Linked DNA regions of Homo sapiens. The protein of the gene in region 1 interacts with the protein of each later gene in a biochemical or structural test. Each region holds a gene or a part of one and is shown on either strand. Other genes may lie near its edges. The genes, in order: NTF4 and LRP1.

Evidence for each region.
Region 2: the proteins of NTF4 (region 1) and LRP1 form a complex in vitro, tested with the Homo sapiens proteins (one study listed by BioGRID).

The regions. Positions count from the first base shown.
Region 1 is NC_000019.10:49,061,925-49,066,427, reverse strand, and holds the start of NTF4 (neurotrophin-4 preproprotein), read left to right. Parts: upstream 1-1,609; 5' UTR 1,610-2,689; exon of another isoform or gene 2,690-2,812; intron 2,813-3,677; exon of another isoform or gene 3,678-3,771; coding exon of another isoform or gene 3,772-3,789; intron 3,790-4,418; coding exon of another isoform or gene 4,419-4,430; coding exon 4,431-4,503. UniProt on the Homo sapiens protein: Target-derived survival factor for peripheral sensory sympathetic neurons. May promote ameloblast differentiation and subsequent reduction in proliferation of ameloblasts.
Region 2 is NC_000012.12:57,176,977-57,180,776, forward strand, and holds part of LRP1 (prolow-density lipoprotein receptor-related protein 1 preproprotein), read left to right. Parts: intron 1-64; coding exon 65-269; intron 270-450; coding exon 451-615; intron 616-1,382; coding exon 1,383-1,627; intron 1,628-1,913; coding exon 1,914-2,045; intron 2,046-2,352; coding exon 2,353-2,580; intron 2,581-2,805; coding exon 2,806-2,980; intron 2,981-3,070; coding exon 3,071-3,165; intron 3,166-3,353; coding exon 3,354-3,503; intron 3,504-3,690; coding exon 3,691-3,800. UniProt on the Homo sapiens protein: Endocytic receptor involved in endocytosis and in phagocytosis of apoptotic cells. Required for early embryonic development. Involved in cellular lipid homeostasis.

The DNA.
Region 1 (4,503 bases):
ACTCTGTTTGGAAACCTCATCCCTACTATCCCCTCCAGGACTAGAAGCTAGAAGCTAGAAGCTAGAGTCCTCCTGCTATGCGGCAGGATGTATTGGCTGTTTAGGAACAGGGGAAGGGTGGAGAAGCCGGAGAGGTGACCTGAATGCACACCCAAAGCCTGGGAAGTGGCCCTTCCCCCCACCCCCAATAAATAACTGGAGCGGCCTTGTGTGTTGCCTTGGCTGGGATGGTGAGGAGCAGGAAACACCCTAACCGGGGACACCCTCCTGCCACCTTGCCATGCTATATTTAGGCTGAGGGGGTGTGGGATGACCCTCGAGGCAGGTGTCAGTTTTCCTTCTGAAAATAGCGCAGGCGGAGGGGAGCGGAGTCTCAGGGTAGAGGTGTGGTGGGGTGAGGAGCCCCGCTGCCCTCATGACTGTCCTGAGACACTCCGGCTCCGGTCCCATCCCTGTCTTTCTCAGGGTCTCTCAGGGGCTCTGTCCCCTTCTCGGGGGGGTGGGGGGGTCTGCCCTCACGCTCTCTGGGCCTCTGTCTTCTCTCTGGGCTCCTGCCCTCCCCCACTCTCTCTAGTCTCGGTCCCCCTCTTTCTTTTGGTCTCTCCCCACTTTTCCATGTCTTCTCCCTATCTCTCCCTTCATGTCACCGCGCACCATTTCTCAAGGTAGCTGATTGTTCTTAAGACACATCTGTCTATCTCTGGTCCTATGATACCTTGCACGTCTCTTATCTGAGCTCAGGACAAGACCTTCTCCCCGGTCCCCAGCCAGGAAATTCCAGGGGAGAGGAGTATGCGGGAGCCCCCACATCCACTGTCTCCCCGGGCCTGGGGCCTTATCACTGCCCAAGCCCAGCTGGTTAATGTCTGGCGTGGAGCTCCTGGGAAGTGGGGAGGAGAGCAGAGGGTGGGAATCTGCCCCGGGATTGACACGCAATTGGCAAAAGACGGCAAAGGAATCTCAGGCCCAGACTCCTGGGGCTAATGGAGGAGGAGGCTGGGGGCTGGACTCCTGAGTCTGAGACGGGGCGGGGTTGGGAGGTGGTGGGGGGAACTGTGGGCTTAGTACTCAGGCGCCTGGGGCTGGGGGGAGAGGTGGCTGGGGTCGCAAGTCCTGGGTCTGAGGGAGGAGGGGCCGGATGCCTGGACTCCTGGGTCTGAAGGGAGGAGGGGCTGGGGGCCTGGACTGCTAGGTCCAAAGGAGGAGGCAGCTGGAAACTGGGACTCCTGTGACCAAGGCGGCCGCGTTGAACGAGCCAGGCCTGGCTTCCAAGGTCCCGGCACGCGAGTGCAAGGCAGGATCCCCCGGCCCCTCCTCTGCCGCCCGGCGCCGCCCCGCCCCCGCCCCCGACCCGGGCCCTGCGGAGCGTGAGCAGCTAGCACCCGGCGGGCCAGCGAGCGTCCCTGCAGCCAGCGAGCAGGAGGAGGAGCTGCTGCCGGGCGGAGGGCAGCCGCGGGAGCCGAAGAGGGCGCCCCAGGTAAGATCTCCACTCCTCCTCCCTCGGGATTCCGGCGTCCTGGTCGCCCTGCCCTCGGGTGGGGAGGGACGGGGGCGGGGCCGACCGGGGCGGGGCTTGGCGGAGGAAACTGAGGCAAGAGGGAAGTGTCCCAGATATGCAGCCGGTTTCCCCTGAGGGGTCTCGGAGTCCGGAACCCCCAACCCAAATCTGGAGGATGAGGAACCCGGAGTCTGCATTTCTTAGTATCCGAGAAGGAGGGGCCTGAATTCCAGAACTCCTGGGTCTGAGAGAGGAGGGCACTGGGGGCCTGGATTCCTGGGTCTGAGGGAGAAGGGCGCTGGGGGCATGGACTCCTGGGTCTGAAGGAGGAGGGCGCTGGGGACCTGGACTCCAGGGTCTGAGGGAGAAGGGTGCTGGGGGCCTGGGCCTGGACTCCTCCTGGGTCTGAGGGAGAAGGGTGCTGGGGGCCTGGACTTCTGGGTCTGAGAGAGGAGGGCGCTGGGGGCCTGGACTACTCCTGGGTCTGAGGGAGGAGGGCGCTGGGGATCTGAACTCCTGGGTCTGAAGGTGGAGGCCCTGGGGTCTGCACTACTCGGTCTGAGGGAGAAGGCGGTCCTGGTTGGGTCAGCCTGGGCTCCTTTCACTCTCCACCCTTCCCCTTTCCTGTACCGAGGAGCCAGGGCAGGCAGCCACTCCAGGTATGTGCAGAAGTCTTGGGCGGGCCCTGGCCTGTCCTGTGAGGAGGGAACATTCCAGGAAGCAGCTTGGGGAACCAGGGCTTCTTGAGTGTGGGCCCTCAGGGACCCGGGTGTCCAGGCCAGTTCCGCCCCATCTGGGAGATGAATGGGCCGAGGGGGATGTAATCTCTTCCAGCCTCCTTCATCCACTGCCTCTCCCTTCCCCTATTCTCCCTTCCCCTCCCTCCATCTGCTTCCCATCCCAGCCAGGAGCCATCACCTGGGTAGAAAAGGGGCCTCTGGAAAGGGGGCGGGGCCTTGACTCTTGGGTACCCTGCACTTGAAGAGGAACTCTGGGAAGGGGTTGTTCAGGGATTTGGCCCCTTCCCCACCTGCCTCTATAACCTGTCTATTCTTTTCTTCCCCTAGGTGGTTGCCCCCTCCCTCTCCTGAGATGTCAGGAAGGAGGGGGCCACCTGTGTCCTCCACAGGGGCCCCCCGAAGCCTGGGGACTCCCAGCCCCAGAGCTCCGAGGCGGAGGAGGTGCTGACAGGTCTGGTAACTACTGACTGTTTCCCAGTCTTCTCCACGCCACCCTTTCCCAGAACCACAGGCTTCCAGAATGTTGTAGGGAAACTGCAAAATCCGCGCCTCCACCAGCCTCTCCCAGCGCCAGGTCAATTTCACACACAGGGAAACTGAAGCCTGCCTCAGAGGGGCAGCGTTTTACCTCCTTAGTGGCAGTTTTGAGGTGAACTGGGGTCTCCCTAGGATTCCAGGTTGTGACCTTTCTCTAAATTGTGGAATGTGGCCAGGCGTGGTGGCTTGAGTCTGTAGTCCCAGCTACTCAGGAGGCTGAGGCAGGAGAATGCCATGAACTTGGGAGGCGGAGCTTGCAGTGAGCCAAGATCGTGCCACTGCACTCCAGCCTGGGCGACAGAGGGAGATTCCATCTCAAAAAAAAAAAAAAAAAAATTTTGTTTGGGACCAGGCATGGTGGCTTATGCTTGTAATCCCAGCACTTTGGGAGGCCAGGACACGACTATTGCTTGAGGTTGGGAGTTCAAGACCAGTCTGGCCAACATGGTGAAACCCCATCTCTATTAAAAATACAAAAATTAGCTGGGCACAGTGGCAGGTGCTTGTAATCCCACCTACTCAGAAGGCTGAGGCAGGAGAATCACTTGAACCCAGGAGGCAGACATTGCAGTGAGCCAGGATTGTGCCACTGTACTCCAGCCTGGCCAACAGAGTGAGATTCTGTCTCAAAAAAAAAAAATTGTTTGGAACATCCTCCAAGATGCAAGACTGTCGGTTCCTCAGAGTTGCACAGGAAGGACGGCAGAGTGCAGTTGCCCAGAGGTGAAGTCCCATCTCTGCCATTTGCTGGCTGTGTGACCGGGCACAAATCATTAACTTCTCTGAGCCTGTATTTCAACATCTGTTACTGTTAAGTAATAGTAGTTGAATTATTTTTATTTTTATTTTATTATTATTATTGTTTTTTAAGACGGAGTTTCGCTCTTGTTGCCCAGGCTGGAGTGCAATGGTTCAATCTCAGCCCACCACAACCTCCACCTCCTGGGTTCAAGTGATTGCCCTGCCTCAGCCTCCCAAGTAACTGGGATTACAGACATGCGCCACCACACCCGGGTAATTCTGTATTTTTAGTAGAGAAGGGGTTTCACCATGTTGACCAAGCTGGTCTGGAACTCCTCACCTCAGGTGAGCCGCCCATCTCGGCCTCCCAAAGTGCCGGGATTACAGGTGTGAGCCACCATGCCTGGCCTTATTTTTACTTTTGAGACAGAGTCTCACTCTTGTCGCCCAGGTGGCAGGGGAGTGGTGCACTCTCTGCTCACTGCAACCTCGGCCTCCTGGGTTCAAGTGATTCTCCTGCCTCAGCCTACTGAGTAGCTGGGATTACAGGCGTGCAGCACTATGCCCGGTTAATTTTGGTATTTTTGGTAGAGATGAGGTTTCACCATGTTGGCCAGGCTGCTCTGGAACTCCTGACCTCAAGTCATCCACCTGCCTCAGCCTCCCAGAGTGCTGGGATTAGAGGTGTGGGGCACAGTGCCTGGCCTGTAGTAGTTGAATATTTATTATTAATCTACAAGTTGCGCATTACGCAAGCCCTAGATATAGGGTCCCCCAAACTTCTAGAACAAGGGCTTCCCCACAATCCTGGCAGGCAAGCCTCCCCTGGGGTTCCCAACTTCTTTCCCCACTGAAGTTTTTACCCCCTTCTCTAATCCCAGCCTCCCTCTTTCTGTCTCCAGGTGCTCCGAGAGATGCTCCCTCTCCCCTCATGCTCCCTCCCCATCCTCCTCCTTTTCCTCCTCCCCAGTGTGCCAATTGAGTCCC
Region 2 (3,800 bases), on another chromosome or scaffold:
ATTTCACACATTCATGCACAGCTCCCCAGGAGACGCTAACCTTTCACTGCCCTCTCTTCTCCAGCCCTGACTAGTTTCGAGGTGGTGATTCAGTATGGCCTGGCCACACCCGAGGGCCTGGCTGTAGACTGGATTGCAGGCAACATCTACTGGGTGGAGAGTAACCTGGATCAGATCGAGGTGGCCAAGCTGGATGGGACCCTCCGGACCACCCTGCTGGCCGGTGACATTGAGCACCCAAGGGCAATCGCACTGGATCCCCGGGATGGGTGAGGACCTTGCCCAGCCTTCTCCTGGCCCCATGGCCCCCCTGAAGTCCCATTCAGCCTGGCCAGGGACACCTTACTCCTCAGTGCCATCTGCCTCCTCCCACCCTCTACCTACGATCCCACCACAGTCGCTCCCTGAGGGCCCTGACTTTAGCCCTCCTGACCCCTCCCCACTCCCCAGGATCCTGTTTTGGACAGACTGGGATGCCAGCCTGCCCCGCATTGAGGCAGCCTCCATGAGTGGGGCTGGGCGCCGCACCGTGCACCGGGAGACCGGCTCTGGGGGCTGGCCCAACGGGCTCACCGTGGACTACCTGGAGAAGCGCATCCTTTGGATTGACGCCAGGTCAGCACCCTCTGTGCCCTGAGAAGGCCCAAGTCTGTGGCACCAGGACGGGGTGGGGAGGAACCTGTGGTGATGAGGGTGATGAGAAGGACCAAGGGATCTAGAACTAGGAACGGTGGCAAAGGACTGGGCACAGGAGGAGGAGGACGGAGGGGCGTGGGGAGGCCAGGGCCGAGGGGAGGGGGCAGGTAGAGGAGGCGGAAGCAGGGCCATCAGCTGTGGTTATTCACACTGTACCATCCTCTCCACTCACCTGTCCTCTCCACTCTGTTCCCTCTGCTGGGGCTGTGTCTGCCCAGAGGGAGGGGAAACTTCTTTCTAATTGGTCTGCCCAGGGAGGGTGCCTTTTTCTTTTCTTTTTTTTTTTTTTTTTTTGAGACAGAGTCTCGCTCCGTCGCCCAGGCTGGAGTGCAGTGGCGCGATCTCGGCTCACTGCAGGCTCCGCCCCCCGGGGTTCACGCTGAGGGTGCCTTTTTCTGACTTTCATCAAAGCCCTGAGTGCTGACAGCAGCCCTGGGGAGAAGTGACCGAAAGATTCCCTTGGGGCTTGGGAATCGGGGCCTGAGAGGTGAAACCTGGACCTGTTGGGTTCTCACACCTTGGTCCTTCTGTCTGTCTGCTCTGGCCAGCAAGGCTTAGGGGAGGGAATGGTCCCATGCTCTTCGCTGGGAGGGCTGTGGCCAGGGCCCAGAGGGTGGGCACCTGGGCAGAGCTCTGAGGGCTGAGATCCCAGCTGGCATCCTCATTCTGCTCCATCATGCTCTTAGGTCAGATGCCATTTACTCAGCCCGTTACGACGGCTCTGGCCACATGGAGGTGCTTCGGGGACACGAGTTCCTGTCGCACCCGTTTGCAGTGACGCTGTACGGGGGGGAGGTCTACTGGACTGACTGGCGAACAAACACACTGGCTAAGGCCAACAAGTGGACCGGCCACAATGTCACCGTGGTACAGAGGACCAACACCCAGCCCTTTGACCTGCAGGTGTACCACCCCTCCCGCCAGCCCATGGGTAAGGGGCTCGGGGCCTCGAGCAGCCGGAAGGGAGCCAGCAGCCTCTTTAGAAGCTGTAGAAGCTCTTAGGAGAGGAGAGGGCAGTGAGAACAGGAGCAAGTCTGTGCTGGGATGGCAGGGGTAGGCCGGCTGTTGACAGAGGCACTGTCTAGCAGCAGAGAAGGGTCTAGTAGTAGCGGCTGCTGGAACAGGGGGAGGAGAGTGGGCGAGGAAGGGGTGGTCCATGTAGGGAGCAGCAAGTCACAGGATGCTCTGGCTTCTTCTCTTCTCCACCCTGCCCCCAGCTCCCAATCCCTGTGAGGCCAATGGGGGCCAGGGCCCCTGCTCCCACCTGTGTCTCATCAACTACAACCGGACCGTGTCCTGCGCCTGCCCCCACCTCATGAAGCTCCACAAGGACAACACCACCTGCTATGGTAGGAGCCCCTCCCTCCAGAGCCAGTGAGCAACTGAGGCTGGAGGGAAGGCCGCAGGCCCCAGGATCCCGGTTGTCAGCTAAGGCAGAGTCCCAGTCGGGAGGGTCCCGATAGGAGAGGCTCCAGAGACAGCCACTGTGAGAAGGGGCTGCAGGTCTGCCAGGGGGGCTGCACCCAGCGGGGTATGTCCACGGAGCCAAGGGCCAGTAGCAAACAGACGGATCCAGAAGAAGGCAGGGCCTGAAACCGGATTGGTGGGAAGCACAGAGGCAGGGACTGCCTTCAGTGACCAGCCCATGCCCCACAGAGTTTAAGAAGTTCCTGCTGTACGCACGTCAGATGGAGATCCGAGGTGTGGACCTGGATGCTCCCTACTACAACTACATCATCTCCTTCACGGTGCCCGACATCGACAACGTCACAGTGCTAGACTACGATGCCCGCGAGCAGCGTGTGTACTGGTCTGACGTGCGGACACAGGCCATCAAGCGGGCCTTCATCAACGGCACAGGCGTGGAGACAGTCGTCTCTGCAGGTTCTTCCTGGCCCTGGATGCCCACCAGTGGACATGGGCACCTCCACCCGCCCCTTGCTCCCAACCCTGGTCTACTTGGTCCGAGTGGTCCTTCTCCCAGTCCTGTTCCCCCTCAGTGCTCCAGCCTGGTTTCCTGATCCCTTTTCTCCAGAAGGCACACTGGCTCCCCTCCTGACCCACTGCCCTGCAGACACCCAACAACTGACTCCCTACTTGTGCCCCCAGACTTGCCAAATGCCCACGGGCTGGCTGTGGACTGGGTCTCCCGAAACCTGTTCTGGACAAGCTATGACACCAATAAGAAGCAGATCAATGTGGCCCGGCTGGATGGCTCCTTCAAGAACGCAGTGGTGCAGGGCCTGGAGCAGCCCCATGGCCTTGTCGTCCACCCTCTGCGTGGGTCAGTCTAGGGCCCAGGGCCGGGGAGCATGGGGTGTGGGGCTGGGAAGAAGAGGACCCTGACCTTTCCCTCTTGGCACCCTCCCCCCAGGAAGCTCTACTGGACCGATGGTGACAACATCAGCATGGCCAACATGGATGGCAGCAATCGCACCCTGCTCTTCAGTGGCCAGAAGGGCCCCGTGGGTACGAGCTTCCCTGCCCACCCCCACAGCCCCTCCCTAATTCCTTGACCAGCAGGTGCTTGCAGGGTCCTTCAGTTGCCCCTCAGCCTCCCCAGAGCCCTAGCTTAGTGCCTGTTCTCACCATCTGCTCCCTTCCCTGGATCCCCAGCCCTGGGCCAGACTCCCCGGCAGTGACTCCCCCTTTTCCAGGCCTGGCTATTGACTTCCCTGAAAGCAAACTCTACTGGATCAGCTCCGGGAACCATACCATCAACCGCTGCAACCTGGATGGGAGTGGGCTGGAGGTCATCGATGCCATGCGGAGCCAGCTGGGCAAGGCCACCGCCCTGGCCATCATGGGTGAGGGCTGCTGGGCGAAGCAGAGATGACGCAGAGCAGGCCAGGCCAGACCTACTGGGAGACAGGGGCTGGCTTGGGGCAGTCTCTCACCATGTGGGGCGGGCCTGATGACTTAGGGCCAATGGGCCCTTCAGGAGAGCTGGGTGTGGGGCCTTCCCAAGGGTCTCATCCCCTCCTGCTGCCCCAGGGGACAAGCTGTGGTGGGCTGATCAGGTGTCGGAAAAGATGGGCACATGCAGCAAGGCTGACGGCTCGGGCTCCGTGGTCCTTCGGAACAGCACCACCCTGGTGATGCAC